Regions from separate parts of the Homo sapiens genome. Here region 1 is reported to be linked to region 2. Evidence: microRNA targets listed by miRTarBase, many of them from high-throughput screens and not tested one by one. Region 2 holds a microRNA gene; the other region holds the end of a gene's coding sequence.
Evidence for each region. Region 2 holds the annotated microRNA hsa-miR-935 (CCAGUUACCGCUUCCGCUACCGC, at 5,760-5,782, opposite strand). A microRNA usually pairs through its seed, bases 2 to 8, with sites in the 3' UTR of a target mRNA and lowers its output. Matches are read on the target gene's strand: a 7mer-m8 pairs with bases 2 to 8, a 7mer-A1 pairs with bases 2 to 7 and ends in A, and an 8mer does both.

Region 1 (7,426 bases), not on the chromosome of region 2:
CCTCCGGGCTGTGCACCAGGAGCTCTGTTTGGGCAAGTGCTGAGGCTCCGGTCCTCCGTGATGCCCATCCCTGCTCAGGCCCCAGCTCAGCCAGCTGTCCGGCTGGCCTCATTGCCCACCTCCTGCCCACACCAGACCACCAGGTCCACCCGGCCCAGTCTCCCACCTTCAGTCGCACAGATCCGGGCTCCCGCCTCCTGCCCGCACCAGAACAGAGCTCGTCGAGCCCGCTGCCCTGCCTCTTGTGGTATCATTTAACCCTGTAAAAGCATCTGCAGGACACATAGTGTATCAACAGAGTGGGTCAAGAGCCTGGTAGGAGACACTCAAAGTCCTTCCCCACTAGCTCCAGAAACTACCCACCCAGAGCCTCCTCTAAGGGAGTCACAGAGAGGTGACCAGACTGGCTCAGAGGCCGGAAGTCCCACAGCAGCATGACAGCAGTGGACACACGAGCCTGGGGTTACTAGCACTCAAACCCAGAGGGAAAGAGAAAGTAGAGTATGTAAAGGGGCCCGGTGAGTACGGCAAATGAGAACTAGACACAGCCTGTTCCAGGGCCCAGAATTCAGAGATTAAGACTGCAAGTGGGCCGGACGACACCCTGGGCCACAGGGCAGGGTCCTAGGTAGGGCATGCTTCCCAGAGCCAGCTTTGTCATGTCTCATCAGCCATGGCAGGCAGTGCATATTCTATTCCATCACAGAGATGGAAGCCAGGGCAACGTGCTGCTTAGGACCCGCCCGGCATTCCAGGGCCCTGCAGTCTAGCTGGCGTAGCAGCACATCTCAAATCCTGTTCCTGTGAGCTCATCACTTCTGTCAACCCGAGAAGGGAGGGGAACTGCACCAAGAGAGAAACTTCAACACAAGAAAGGTGGTTAGGAAGGGGCCAAGAAGACAGCAAGAAAATTAAAATCTGAGTGGGCAGCTTCTGAAGCCTTGGGTGAAGCCCTTTCTTCCCCTTCCCTCCATCTTCCTTCCTGTGTCAGCCTCTGGGTCCCATCTCCTCATTCACAGCCGCACTGCAGTATTCCTAATAATAACTCCTCCACATCACCTCGACTGCCCCTCCCTGCTGGGCAGAGCAGGAGGAGGCAGCCAGCCCAGCCACCACCCTGCTGGCTCCCCACACAGCCCAGCTCCCAGCCTTCCTGGCTCCCAGCCCCCTTCCCTGTGTGTCCCGTAGGTGCTTCTCCCCTCCTCCCTGGCATTCTCATGCATACAGTCAGGCCACTAAGGGAACCAGTCGCATCAGATTATGTTTTCTTAGCTAAGACCCTTATCTTTTCTGGGTCTTGGTTTCTTCATCTATGATGTGAAGGCATGAACTGTGGTGCCCTCATGCGCCGGGAGCCCACGAGTCCCTGGAGGGAGACAGTAAGCCTGTCAAGGGCACGCTAACCCTGGACAAGATGTGTGAAAGAGGGCAGGAGGGGCTATCTGACAGTGAGCTCAACAGAGCCTGGAAGAAACTTAAGTAAGGCAGTTATAGCTAAAGGTTAAGCCTAAGGAAATCTTACAGGGTAAAAAAAATCTACAAATGAATCATCTGGAAGCCCACTACAGTTCTATTTGTTCTTTGGCCAGACTTCACACAGACAGGTTCATTTTCACCTCCATTTCCATCTGGTCTCACTTATAAGGTTCCCTTAACATGGGCAGAATTTGAGAGCGATATCCATGTGTTCTGCATGGACCAAATATCTCTCTTCCAAAAAACTGTATCCCTGGGTTGAAGAGAGAAAGCAGGGACCATTCCTATGTTGGGAAAATGGGGGCTCAAAAAAAGGTCACGCACAAGGCAGGGGAGCTGAAAATAGAACGCAGGAGGCCTTTAGCTACCTCCCAGTGTAGCGCTCAAGCCATCCCAGGCCTTCCAGGCAGAAGACAGGAGTTACAGTGTTGCTATAAAGAGACCAGAATGAGGGCAGGGAATCTAGGGAGGAAGAAGAGTCACTGCCAGTATCACGCACCATCCGAATCCAGCTAAGGCTCTCTACACAGCAGCGTGCTGCAGAGCGATGAGCTAATCAGTCCCCAAGGAATAACTCCTTCCTGTCCTGGACAGCTGGACCAAGGACAAACGCTCCTTCAGTTTAAAAAAAAAATGCTCCTGAGAACAGCAGTTGTTCCTGTGGTTATGGATGTATTCCAGAACTGTGCCTGTGCCACTGCTGAGCGCGTAGTTAACTCCTGCAGGGGCAGAGCAGGCTGGTTCTGGGTGGCAGAACGATGATTTCAGGACAACTGAAACTCCCAAGGACACATAACATGGACCACAACTAAGGAAGCCAGCACGAGGACAGGACTCAAGCTCAGAAAGCCTGCTGATCAGGTCAGGAGTTTGAGACTGGCCTGGACAACGCAAAAAGAAAAAAAAAAAATAGCCAGGCATGGACATGGTAGTGCACACCTGTAGTCCCAGCTACTCAAGAGGCTGAGGCAGGATGATTGCTTGAGCCCAGGAGGATGAGGCTGCAGTGAGCTGTGATGACGCTACTGCACTCCAGCCCGGATGACAGAGCAAGTCCCTGTCTCAATATTTTAAGTCAAGGGTCTGTAGTCATGTGTTCAACGCCACTTCTTGCCATCACTTTGCAATTATTGAAATGGGCATACTGAGCTCAGAAAGCAAATCTGATGCTTTCACGGGAGACAGAGCCACATTTGTGTTCTGGGTGGGATCACTAGTGCAGGAGAACACTACATCTTCTTCTGAAGGCAAAATGCTTGTAGGTTTTGCCTCTTTACTTTGCATTTACTTCTAAAATTGCACTTGTTCACCTACCAGTGTTTACGAAATCCTGTATTTGGGATGCTTTTTCTATAATAAAATATTATCATTTATGGGAAAAAAAAAAAAAGAAAGCCTGCTGATCTGTGATCTGGTAAACTCCAGCAGGGTGGAGATCCCTGAAGGTCGCCCCTAGACCCAGCGGTCATTTCCTAGAACATTCGGCCAATCCTCACCCAGTGCTGAATCTCCGCCACACTGGGCTGCATAGGTAGTTCCCAGGCCCGCCCACAAGGGGTCATAATAGCTGAGATGAGAGGGGAGGCCGCCAAACCAAAGCCTGTCAGTCACCCGCTCCCTCCTCAAGGCTTGGGTTGGAGTCTGCAAGACACTACCTCTGCTCTCACTCCTGTCCTATCGGCTTGGTTATCAGCCATCTAAGGAATCCACTTGGTATACAGCCAGCACTCCTGGCATCACATCCCTTTCCCTTGCCCCTTGGGGCCGGGCTCCTCTCAGACAGCCAAATCTTCATCCACAGAATGCACCGGGCCCGCCCCGCGGCCTCGCGGTCCTAGGGAGGGCCCATATCCCAGCTTCTCCCTGCTCAGTCCCCTGCTGGCTCTCCACTCTCCCTCCCCACTGGCGCTTTATACTGCCAAGATTCCCCTGTCAGCCCTGCTCTCCACCCTCACCCTAGTGAATTCCCTTCACTCTTTCTTTTCCCAGTTTGTTGACCTACTCAAGCAATGGCTTGAGGTCCCGGAGCTTTTCCTATGAAACCACAGCAGGTACCTGGTTTCCATCAATATTCTTTGGGAAACCTTGGGGTGTGAAAGAATCACTCGTTGCAAGGTACAGCCCCTCCCTCACCAGCCCCTTCCAGTTTCACTCAATTTAGTCTCCCAAATTTACGCTATATCCTTGCCTCCTACTTTTGAAGTTTATATCCCTAACCTGCCCCAGGGCTGAGACCGGTAGGGCAGAGCCCCAGTCCCTTTCACACCGCACAAAACCCGCAGTTAAGCCTGGATGGCAGAGACAAGCCGGAAAAGTAGGAATCCCCCCGTGTTCCGCTCCCAGCGTCCTTCTTCCTGTCACGAGCAGGGCTTCTGCATTCTCTGCGGATTCTAGTCTCCCTGCATCCAATTGCTTCCAAGCTCCTCATTACACAGCACAAACTTTACTCTCATTCTTTTCACCCCTGATTCTTCGGAACCCACACCAACTCGCGGCCCGTTGTGAGTGGTATGACACAGAGAGACCTGTCCCCCTTTCCCAATCCCTACCTCCGCTTGTACTCGTCCCGCTCCCGCTTCACTTTGGCCAGCACGTTGTAGAGAGCGCGGATCTCGGGCGTGATGGTGTCGATCTGGACGCCCACCCCATCCGGGTGCACCCACGACAAGCCAGGCCCTTGCACCAGAGTGGGCTCCAGTCCCGGCCCGAGCCGGCGGGCGTGCGAGAACGACCAGATGGTGCCGGGCATGAAGCGGGCCGACGAGGAATAGGTGGTGGAGGTGGAGGTGGAGGACGACGAGAGGCTGGCCGCGGAGGGCGCGAGGGGGCCGGCCGGGGAGCGCGCGGGCGAGCCCAGCACGCGCGCCGAAGGGCTGCAGACAGCGGCCGGCCGGGCGCCCAGCTGCAGCCCCAGGGGCCGGATGGGGCTGACGAAGCCGGTCTGCACTGCCTGGTCGCGACGACCCAGGCCCCGCCGGCCCTGCTTACCCTCCTCCAGCGCTTGCTGCAGTTGCTTCTCCAACAGCCGGTTCCGGCGCTCCAGCTCATGCACCTTGGCCAGGAAGCAGCGGAACCGGAGGTTCAGGGTCTTGAGCACGTTGATGTTGGAGCCCAGGTCATTGCGGAGGGCCATGGCGGCAGGCGGGGCCGGGCCCGGCCCGGGCGGCGAGTAGGCAGCAGGGCCGGCCGGCGAGAGAGGCGCCGGGGGCAAGTCTCCTCCCCCGGCGAAGTGGTCGCCTCCCAGTGAGTCCCCCAGTGGCCCGGCCAGGCCCTGCTGCTCCTGCTGCAGGAGGAAGAGGTTGGGGCCGAATAACGGATTCATGGCTGCGCCTTCTGCTGGGAGATGCAGACCGGTGCAGGAGCAGGGATGGAAGGCGAGCCAGAAGAGCCAATGCGGCGCCGGCGGGACAGAGCCGACCAATCAGGCGGCTCGGCAGCGGGGCAGAGGTCAGGGGGCGGGCCGAGGGGAAGCCAATGACAGGCTCCAATTGGAGGCCGGACCCTGGACCTTTCCGGGTCTGAGGCCGAGCCCTGTGATGAGGGGAGCCACCGCCTGGACTCCAGCCGGGGTGGCGTAAAGCCCAGGACCTCCAGTACCCCATGGGTTCTGGTGGCAAGCCCATCTCCCCTACACGACTTTTTTTTTTTTTGAGACCGAGTCTCACTGTCGCCCGGGCTGGAGTGCAGTGGCGCGATCTTGGCTCACTGCAACCTCAGCCTCCCAGGTTCAAGCGATTCTCCTGCTTCAGTCTCCCGAGTAGCTGGGATTACAGGCACCCGCCACCACACCCGGCTGATTTTTTGTATTTTTAGTAGAGACGAGGTTTCGCCATGTTAGCCAGGCTGGTCTCGAACACCTGACCTCAGGTGATCCACCCGCCTTGGCCTCCCAGAAAGTGCTGGGATTACAGGCATGAGCTAGTGTGCCCCGCCTTCCCCTACACTTCTATTGCCCTCCTCTCCCCGGAGTTCAATCACCCCTAGCTCTGACTCCAGGGCTTTCCCTTCCTGGGAAAACCCAAGGATGCAGGAGCCTAAAACTGACCTTATTTCTCAGTAGCACCCAACCATTCCCTCTCCTCAGAAGATCCCAGTCCCACCTCCCATCTTTACCCTTAAAGCGGCAAAGGCAGCACCCAGTTCCCTCAAAAATACTCAGTGGCCAGAGGTTTTAAAATGTGTATTAAATTTCATGGGTATGCACAGTAGAGAAGGCATCCTCACAGAGGCAAGAGTTCCAACCTGGTGACAATGGCAGTGAGCCACCCGTCTAGTTTTCAACCATCTAAGATAGCAGCAGCTGGCTGTTGCCCCTGGACTGAGATTTCTTCCTCTTTGCTGGTGGGGGGCGGCTGGAACGGATGGGAGACACAGTGGGAGGCTGAGGCCCCTTGGGGGTATCATTCTGTTTCTGGAAGGCAGCTTTCTCAAAAGGCTGCTCTGGCAACTGCTGCTTCTCAACCCCCTTGGCCCTTCCAAGGGGCTGATGATGGTCCTTAGGTTTCAGGGTGGCCTGAGTCTTGGATGGGGATAACACAGCCGGTGTTTGTGTGTCTGTGCCCTTGGGAGGGGCATTCTGCCTGAGGAAAGCAACTTTCTTGGAGGACTGTAATTTAGGTGATCGTTGCTTTAGCTTCCCAGTCACCTTTGGCTCCCTGATCCCTTCGGCTTTTCCAGCTGGCTGACTGCTATCCTGGAAGCTGGAGGAAGCTTGGGTCTTTGTGACAGAAGGTACAGTGGACAATTCTGAGTCTGCCCCTTTGGAGATGCCATTCAGCTTCTGGAAGGAGGCCTTCTTGGGATGTTGCTGTTTCTGCAGCTGCTGCTTTGTCTTTGCAGCCCCCTTGGCTTTCTTGGCTGGCTGGCTGCTGTTCTCAGACTTGGGGATGACCTGAGGCAAGTCTACATTTGTAGGTGTGGCTGTTTCAGAATTTCCTGGGGTTAAAATTAAACAGATGGTGTCAGAAAATGGGCCTTATCACCATATTTTAATATTCTCATATTAAAATATGAGAATTGCCATTTCCTGGGCAGGAGCTCCACACAATTAGGTCAGTGCCTAAGAGCAGATTACCTAAATTCCCATTACTTAATATAACTTGGCCTTTACTCAAGTCCTAGTTGAACCTTGTATTAAAAGATCACTGCCTATAGGCCAGGCGTGGTGGCTCACACCTGTAATTCCAGCACTTTGGGAGGCCAAGGCAAGTGGATTGCTTGAGGCCAGGAGTTCAAGACCAGCCTAGCCCACATGGTGAAACCATCTCTACTAAAAATACAAAAATTAGCCAGGGATGGTGGTACACACCTGTAATCCTAGCTACTTGGGAGTCTGAGGCACAAGAATCGCTTGAACCTGGAAGGTGGAGGTTGCAATGAGCTGAGATTGCACCACTGCAGTCCAGCCTGAGCGACAAAGCAAGACACCGTCTCAAAAAAAAAAAAAAAAAAAAAAAAATCACTGCCTATCCTTGGGCCAAAAGGTTTCTACAGGAAGCTGCGCCCTCTTGAGGACAGGAAGTAACAAGATGCTGTAAGGAAGAGGTGATTCTCAGGGTTTTGGGGTTTTTTTTTTCTTTTTTTGAGATGGAATCTCACTCTGTCACCCAGGCTGGAGTGCAGTGGTGTGATCTCGGCTCACTGCAACCTCTGCCTCCTGGGTTCAAGCAATTCTCCTGCCTCAGCCTCCGGACAATCACAACCGTGCGCCACCATGTCCGGCTAATTTTTGTATTTTTAGTAGAGATGAGGTTTCACCATGTTGACCAGCTGGTCTTGAACTCCTGACCTCAGGTGATCCACCTGCCTCAGCCACCCAAAGTGCTGGGGTTACAGGCGCGAGCCACCACGCCCGGCCTCGCAGGGTCTTCTAAATGAATTTGAAGCACTAGGCTTTATTTATCTTTTTTTTTTTTTTTTTGAGGTAGAGTCTCACTGTGTTGCCCAGGCT
Region 2 (7,774 bases):
GTCATCAGACCTAATGGTCACTCTGCTCTCTGCATCCTTGTCCAAGTCTCAGCAGCCCTTGGCACAGCTGGCTGTCTCCTCTCCTTCTTGAAACACAAAGGTGCATTTGCCCTCTGTAACCCTCCTGGTTTCAGCCTACCTCGAGATCACTCCTAAGCTCGTTTTGCTACATCCCCTTCTCCCCCAGATGTAGATGTCCCCAAGGCTCTGGCCAGGGTCGCTTCTCTGTCCCCACCCCCCTGCTAGGCCACGTCACCCAATCCTGTGGCTTTATGTTGACGTTTCCAAAACTTACGTTTTTGAGCCACGGCCTCTCTTTCCCCCAAACTCCAGTCTCACATATCCAACTGGCTATTTGATACCACAACTCGGATTTCTCGAAGGCAGATCTATCTTGACACATCCAAAAGAGAAGCCTTGGTTCCTCCCTCCCAAAGCCACTTTCCTGATCCCAGTCTCCTCGTTCCTGGTAACAATCCTCATCGGTGCCCATCAGAGATGTGCGTGCCCAATTCAGAGAGTTCTTCTCTTCCTGGTTCCTTTTCCTTCCCTCCTCTATGACATCCAGTTCACCACCAATGCAGGCTCTAGCCTCCAAAATCCCATGCCTTCTTCCACTTCCTCCATCCCACTAACTCCACCTTGGTCCAGGCCTCCAGCAACCAGAGGAAGGCAACAGCCCGCTACCTCCTTCCTTCCCCTTTGACTCCTGAAGTCTACGTATGCTCAGCACAGCAATGTAATTCTGCTGTTCTTGTTTAAATAAAAATATGAGGCCGGGCGCAGTGGCTCACTCCTGTAATCCCAGCATTTTGGGAGGCCGAGGCAGGTGGATCATTTGAAGCCAGGAATTTCAGATTGGCCTGGCCAACACGGTGAAATCCCGTCTTTACTAAAAATACAAAAAAATTAGCCAGGCGTGGTGGCACATGCCTGTAATCCCAGCTACTCAGGAGGCTGAGGCAGGAGAATCACTTGAACTTGGGAGGCGGAGGTTGGCAGTGAGCCGAGATCAGCCCACTGGACTCCAGCCTGAGACAGAGCAAGACTCTTTTTCAAAATAAATATAAATAAGAAAATAAAAATATGATCATGGCATGCCTGTGCTCAAAACCCTCCAAGCACTTCCCATCAGATCTAGAATAAAATTCAGATTTCTTCCCAAGGATCCAAGGCCCTAACTGATCAGCCCCTACCCTGTGCCTCTGTCCTATGGTGGATCTGCTCACCGCACAGGCCTCCTCGAAGACCTGCTACTTTTCTGGGCTTTGGGGCTGCCTCTGGTGGGTGGAATGCCTGGCCCCCAGACTTTCTCACCTCTCTTTCCTACTCACAATCCACATCTCTGTGACCTCTGCCACAAGGTCTACTCCAAGGACCTCATCTAAAGTCATCCTTGCTCTGTCATTCTGTTACCACTCACTGTCGCCCAGGCTGGAGTGCAGTGGCGCGATCTCAGCTCACTGCAACCTCTGCCTCCTGGGTTCAAGTGATCCTTCTTTCTCAGCCTCCCAAGTAGCTGGGACTACAGGCACACCAGCACACCCAGCTACTTTATTTATTTATTGGTAGAGATGAAGTTTCACCATGTTGACCAGGCTGGTCTCGAACTCCTGACCTCAAGTGATCCACCAGCCTCGGCCTCCCAAAGTGCTGGGATTACAGGCATGAGCCACTGCGCCCGGCCTTCAGCTTAATTTTTAAAGCACTTTTTGGTTACTGAAATGATATTATTTATTGTTTATCTCTCCAGTGTGTTTCAGGAGAGCAGGCCCTTGTCCGTCTATTTGCCACCACATCCCCTGGCCGAGATTGGGTCTAGAACAGGTTGGCACTCAATAAATATTTCTTGAATACTGGGAAAACAACACACCAGAAATGGAGCATTCCTTGACGCTGCGCTTGCTTCTGAGTCTCCACGTTGCTTTTTGTGCGAATCTCTGAGTCTGTCTCCGGCTTACCTCTCCCTCTCTATCTCTGTCTCTGTGTGTGTTTCTGCTATCTCTGGGACTTCTCTGATTTGTGCACCTGTCAGTCTCTCCTCTTCCTCTTCTCTCTCCTCTGTATCACCTTCCTGTCTTTGACTTTTTCTCTGTCTGTGACTCTACTAGTTTGGTCTCTCCTGCTCTCCCCCTCCCTCCCCATCTTGCTCTTCCTCCTGCCTACCCTCAACCTCATTCTTTCTCTCTCTCTCTCTCTCTCTCTCGTTCTGTTTGGCCTTCAGACTCTAGAATCCATTCTCCCCTAACCAGTTCCCTCTCCCTCTTCCAGCAAATATTTGCTGTCTCTCAATTTTTTTTTTTTTTTTGAGACAGAGTCTCGCTCTTTCGCCCAGGCTGGAGCGCAGTGGTGCCATCACGGGTCACTGCAGCCTCACCCTCCCAGGCCCAAGCGAGATCCTTTCACCTCAGCCTCCTGAGTAGCCGGGACTACAGGCGTGCACCACCACACCCGGCTAATTTTTGTATTTTTGGTAGAGACAAGATTTCAATATGTTGGCTGGTCTGGAACTCCTGAGCTCAATCTGCCTGCCTCAGTCTCCCAAAGTGCTGGGATTAGGAGCCACAGCACCCGGCCAGATTTGTCTCTTTTAACACCCGCTCCGGCATCCCTCTTCTCTCCACGTATCCGTCTCTCTCACTCAGCGCTTCTCCGTCTCACTGATTTGTATTCCTTTTCCTACATTTCCCAGCATCTCTTCCTGAAACCGCCTTGGCAGAATTCTTCCTAGGGACCTTCAGTCTCTCTCTTCCTGGTCCTTCCACACAGGCCTCGGAGAGAAATTCTGAACACCCAGCTCTGATCTGTACCCTTCCGTCAAGAGAAGGGCACGCAGAGCCCCTGGCAGCATGGCACCACCGCTGCCACGTCCTCCTCAAGCTGCGTCTGTGCCTGTTTTCCCGCCAGACTGGGAGCCCCTTGAGAGCAGGGCAAGATCAAAATCACCTCTCCACTCCCAGCACCGCCCAGCACAAGGCTTCGGGGGAGGCCTCAGGAAACACTTGCTGAGCAAATATGGAAGGGAAGCCTACTGGGCGCTGTCCCCTCTGCCTTCTCAGTGAACTTCAAACCCATCCCCTCCAATCACCGCACAGCCCTTGCCCCCGCGCAGCTGTCATCCTCTCTCACCATCCTTAGAAGAGCCTCAGTCCCTCTGCCTGGAACTCAGGCACCTTTTTCTCTTTTTTTCTGAGACAGGATCTCAGTCTGTTGCTCAGGCTGGAGTGTAGTGCCGCGATCCTAGCTCACTGCAGCCTCGAACTCTTGGAGTCAAATGGTCCTCCTCCCTCAGCCTCCTGAGTAGCTGTGTCCACAGGTGTGCTCCACCACGCCCGGCTAATTTTTTTTAATGTTTTGTAGAGACAGGGTTTCGCCATGTTATCCAGGCTGGTCTCAAACTCCTGGGCTCAAGTGATACTCCAGCCTCAGCCTCCCAAAGCGCTGGGATTACAGGCATGAGCCACCGCGCCCGGCCACCCTGGTACCTTTACACTCTAGCTTGTGGCTACTTTCCCGGCCTCATCTCCCAGCCCCACCTTGTACATCAGCATCCCAGAACTGTTAGCACTGACCCCAATACATCATGCTCGTTCACTTCCTCCCGTTTTCACCCAAGTTGTTCTTTGGCCCCACAAGCCTTTCTCATGCCTTTCATCAACCAGAAGATGCCCACTCATTTCTTCAAGACCCAGAATGGGCATCATATTCTCCAGGAAGCCTACCCCAAGTGCTGCTCACTCCTGGCAGTTGGTCACTCTGTCCACCGTGTGCCACGGTACCCACGGTGGTCCGGGTTCCAGCACCGATTGCCCTGCCTGGATGGCGGTGTTTGATGACAATAAACTGCTTGAGAGCAGGGCTAGAGTCTGTTTCACCCCTGGGGATCTGGATCCTAACACACTTCCTGGTACCTTAGCAGATGGCCAAAAATGGCAATGGGTGAGTGGCTGAATGAACGAGTGACAGACACATGAGTCTCTAAGCCCCACGGCTTTCTCCTGCACACCAGACACCATGACTATGCTTCAGCATCTGTGTAATTACGTGCTTCCTCCCACAAGAGTGTGAGCTCCAAGGGCCCGTGCCCATGTTTGATGCTGTATTTCAGCACATCTCTGCCTCCTACTCTTGCCTCCGAGTTCCTGTCTTCCCTTTGTACACCATTCACGTTAGCGTCCTGCTTAAACCCGTTCCACGGCCCTCACCACTCCTAGAATAAAATCTGAACTCCTGACCTACGAGCCCCTGCACAATCTGGCCCTGTCTGTGTCTCCGGCCTCACCTTGATCCCCGCTCACCTGCCTCACTACCCTTCAGCCCTCGCTGCAAGCTCCTTCCTGCCCCGGGGCCTTTGCACGTGCTGCTCTGCCTGCCACACTCCTGCCCCAGCTCCGCCCTGCTGGCTTCTTCTCATCCTTTCACTGTCCACTGAAATCTCTTCCTCACAACTGGGTTAGGCTCCCCTGATGGAGCATTTCATAGCATCTCGTTTCTCCTATAGCCTAACTGTAATTTATTGTGTATGTACATGATCGATTAATGCCTGTCTCATGCACAAGATGTTTACTCTATGAGACGTCGGGGCCCCTGGCTGTTTTCCTGCCTCCTGCACGCTGAGCACGGAGCACAATGCCTAGCTTTTTAAGGCGCACAAATAAATTGCCGGTAATGAATGAATGAATGAGAAGGCCCTTTCTGTGCCTCGTTCGTGTCCCCTGCTCCAATGCCTTCTTATGTACCAGTGCCTGGTACACAGTAGGTGCTTAATAAGCCCTTGTGGAATAATGAATGAAAAAAATGAATGAATGCCCGCGTCCAACCCTTCTTTCTGCCTTTCTGCATCCCTTCGCTGTGTCTCTTTATATAGGGCATATATATAGTTTGTGGGTGTAACTATGTATTCGTGTATTATGGGCCCCTCTCCAGGAGTTGGGCTGGGCTGGGAGTCCCTCCCTCCCCTCCCCCCGCCCCGCCCCCCATGCACACAGCAAAACATGAAAAAGAAAACATCTCGAAACTGCAAAAAACACCATGGCCCTCCCCCCTCCCCATAGATCCCCCAAAAAAATAAAACACGACGCTCCCTCACAGCGGCCCCCTCCCTCCCCTGCCCCCTCCCTCGGGGTCCCTGCTTCGGAGGGGGAGGGGGGCGGGGAGGGTGGGCGTGGGGCGGGCCCAGCAGTCTCCAGCGCGCTCACGGGGGAAAGCGGGGGCGCCCCCGACCCCGGCAGCCTCGATGCACGCGCGCCCGCGCACGCGCCCCGGACACGCCCCTCGGCTCCCCCGCCGCGCCCCTACACAGGCGTGGTTTTCCTGTTGAGCGTGTTGGTGTTGGAGGCGGCGGCCTCCTTGGCCAGGGTCCCGGGGGCGGGCGCAGAGGGCGCGGGTGGCGCGGGCGCGGGCGGGGCGGGCGGCCCGGTGACCGTGACCGTGACGCCGCCGCCCGCCTCCTTGGGGAAGGCGTTGTGCAGCGTGAGGAAGCCGGACGCCCCCCCGCGGTCCCGCTCGGCACCCGCCCCGCCGCCGCCTCCGCCGCCGCCCCCGGCGCCCCCGGCCGCGCCGCCGAACGCCCCCACGGCGCCGCCGCCGCCGCCGCCGGCCCCCGCCAGCCCCGCGGCCACGCTGCCCTTGGAGGGGTCGCGGCTGAGCGTGTACATGGAGATGTCCGTGGAGGCAAAGCCCGGGCCCCCGGGGCCGCCGGGAGACGCGTCCCGCGACGGCGACGGCTCGCTGGAGCGGGAGCTAGAGCGGGAGCGGCGGCGGTAGCGGAAGCGGTAACTGGGCAGACGGAGGATGGCCGAGGGGCCGCTCCCGCCACTGCCGCCCGCGCCCCCGCCGGCCTTGAGCAGGTCCGAGCGAGACTGGCAGTGCGCCTCGCGGCTGCGCTCGATGTAGATGTTGACGGCCAGCACGCCTATCACCTCGGCCAGGATGAACGACAGCCCGCCGAAGTAGAAGGACCAGCCGTACGAGTAGTGGTTTTTCTTCTCCTCGTCCCGCTTCGGGCCCGGCTCGCCCGCGTTGGCGGAGATGTACACGATCACGCCGATGATGTTGCTCAGGCCTGGGCGGGGACGGTCAGACGGGAGCCTCGAGGCCACCCCCGGCCCCGCCCCCGCCCCCGGCCCCGACCCCTGCCCGCCTGCGCCAGCGGGCCCAGGCGCCACCCCCAGGCGGTCTAGGCCCCACCCCGAGTGGTCTAGACCCCCGTCCTGGATCTGGCTGACCCAAGTCCTGCCAGAAGTGAACACAACTCCCCGCCCGATGCTCTAGGCGCTTCCCTGCTGGTCTAAGCTCCAACCCAGAGGGCTCCGGCCCACTCTTAGCTGGCCCAGGCCTCACCTCTGCTGGTCTAATCCAACCCCGGCTGGTCGAAACTCCATCCCCCAGGTGGTGTAGGGCCGCCAATGGTCCAGACTGCATCATGCGTGGTCCTGGCCCAGGCAGGCTCAAGCACCCCCTCAGATGGTCTAAATTCCACCCCCAGGTGGTCCAGGCCCTGCCCTGAATGGTCCAGACACGGCCCTGGATGGTCCAGGTCCTGCCCCCAGATAGCCCACGGCCCACCTCTGCCGGTCTAACCCAGCCCTGGCTGGTCTAAACTCTGCCCCAGGTGGTCTAGGACCCACCCCCAGATGGTCTGGGCTGCCCCCACATGGCATAAACCCCACTCCTCTAGCTAAGGTCCCAACTCTGCTGGTCTAAACCCCACCCTGGCTGGTGGTAACTCCACCCCAAGCGGTCCAGGCCCCACCCCTAGGTGGCCTAAGCCCCACTCCCAGCGAGTCCAGGCCCTGCCCTGACTGGTCTAAAACCCACCTTTGATGAGATGAGTTTCCAGGCCCTGCCCTAGTTAGTCTACCTCCACCCTTAACGTTATAAACCTGGGTTTTTCCCAAGCCTCATCCCTCTGCTCCTTTGAACTCTGTTAATGATGTCATCCTGCTGTGATCAGGCCCTGCCTTTCACTTATCTAATCTCTCTTCATATAATTCCTGCCGGAGTATCCATTCTAGGCCCTCCCCTACTGGTCAAAAATTTGCCTTTAATAAAGCAGGCCCCGCCTTCTACTCTAGGCCCCACCTCCAGCTTACCAAACCCCGCCCCGTGCGGATCTTGGCCAGGGTCCTTGCCGGTCTCGGGTCCTTGCCGGTCTCAGGTCCAGCTACTCCGGCCTTTCAGATCCTCCAAGCCCCACCCCTTGCAGATCTAGACCCATCCCCAAAGCACACCCTGCTCTTCAAATATGCAAAGCCCTCCCTCTTCTCTGTATTCTACTCCTCCAAAAAAGCTCTGCCCCTGGAATTTCCCAATGCTACTCATACGGGGTAGAAAGGGGGCCTTACCCCTTAATTGCGTGCCTCTTAAGTGTTCCAGTCCTAGCTCTCTGCTCGTCTAGGCCCTAGCTCTTGAGACGGCCAATCCCAGGTACTGACTGGCTTTGGTCGGCCTCTTGCTTCAATCAGCCAGGTTGATTCTCTGTGCCCTTAAGGACATAACCCCTCCCCCTTTGGCTTTTCCAGGCATCGCCCCGTCTTTTCTAGCCTCTCCTTCTCCAAATGGCCACGGGCAAGGGCCGATTCAGTCTCCCTTACCCAGCCCCTTTAGTTTCCACTTCCCGGCCCTGGACGGTTTCCCAGGACCAGCCCCCTCTTGGATCCACCAAAGTCTCCAAAGGCCCGCCCCTTAAAGCAGGCTCCTCATCGGCGCTCAGATCACTTTCTACCTCTCCTGGGCCCGCCCTCCAAGACCCAGCCCCGCCTCTCTATCCTCA

Region 1: the mRNA of NOP2 is a reported target of hsa-miR-935. The part of its 3' UTR that is shown has no 7-base or 8-base seed match.

Annotation. Positions count from the first base shown.
Region 1 is chr12:6,551,232-6,558,657 of GRCh38, forward strand. NOP2 (NOP2 nucleolar protein) reads right to left here. Exons shown (of 16, transcript NM_001258308.2): 16 at 5,640-6,411. The coding sequence ends at 5,762. It overlaps IFFO1 (intermediate filament family orphan 1), which reads right to left and starts at 4,811. Exons shown (of 10, transcript NM_001193457.2): 1 at 4,026-4,811. The coding sequence starts at 4,798. RefSeq lists enhancers at 1-365, 638-1,155, 2,787-3,287, 3,288-3,788 and silencers at 4,249-4,428, 4,539-4,778, 4,829-4,988.
Region 2 is chr19:53,980,370-53,988,143 of GRCh38, reverse strand. It overlaps MIR935 (microRNA 935), which reads right to left and starts at 5,837; the gene lies at 5,747-5,837. It overlaps CACNG8 (calcium voltage-gated channel auxiliary subunit gamma 8), which reads right to left. Exons shown (of 4, transcript NM_031895.6): 4 at 1-6,064. The coding sequence ends at 5,295. RefSeq lists an enhancer at 7,629-7,774.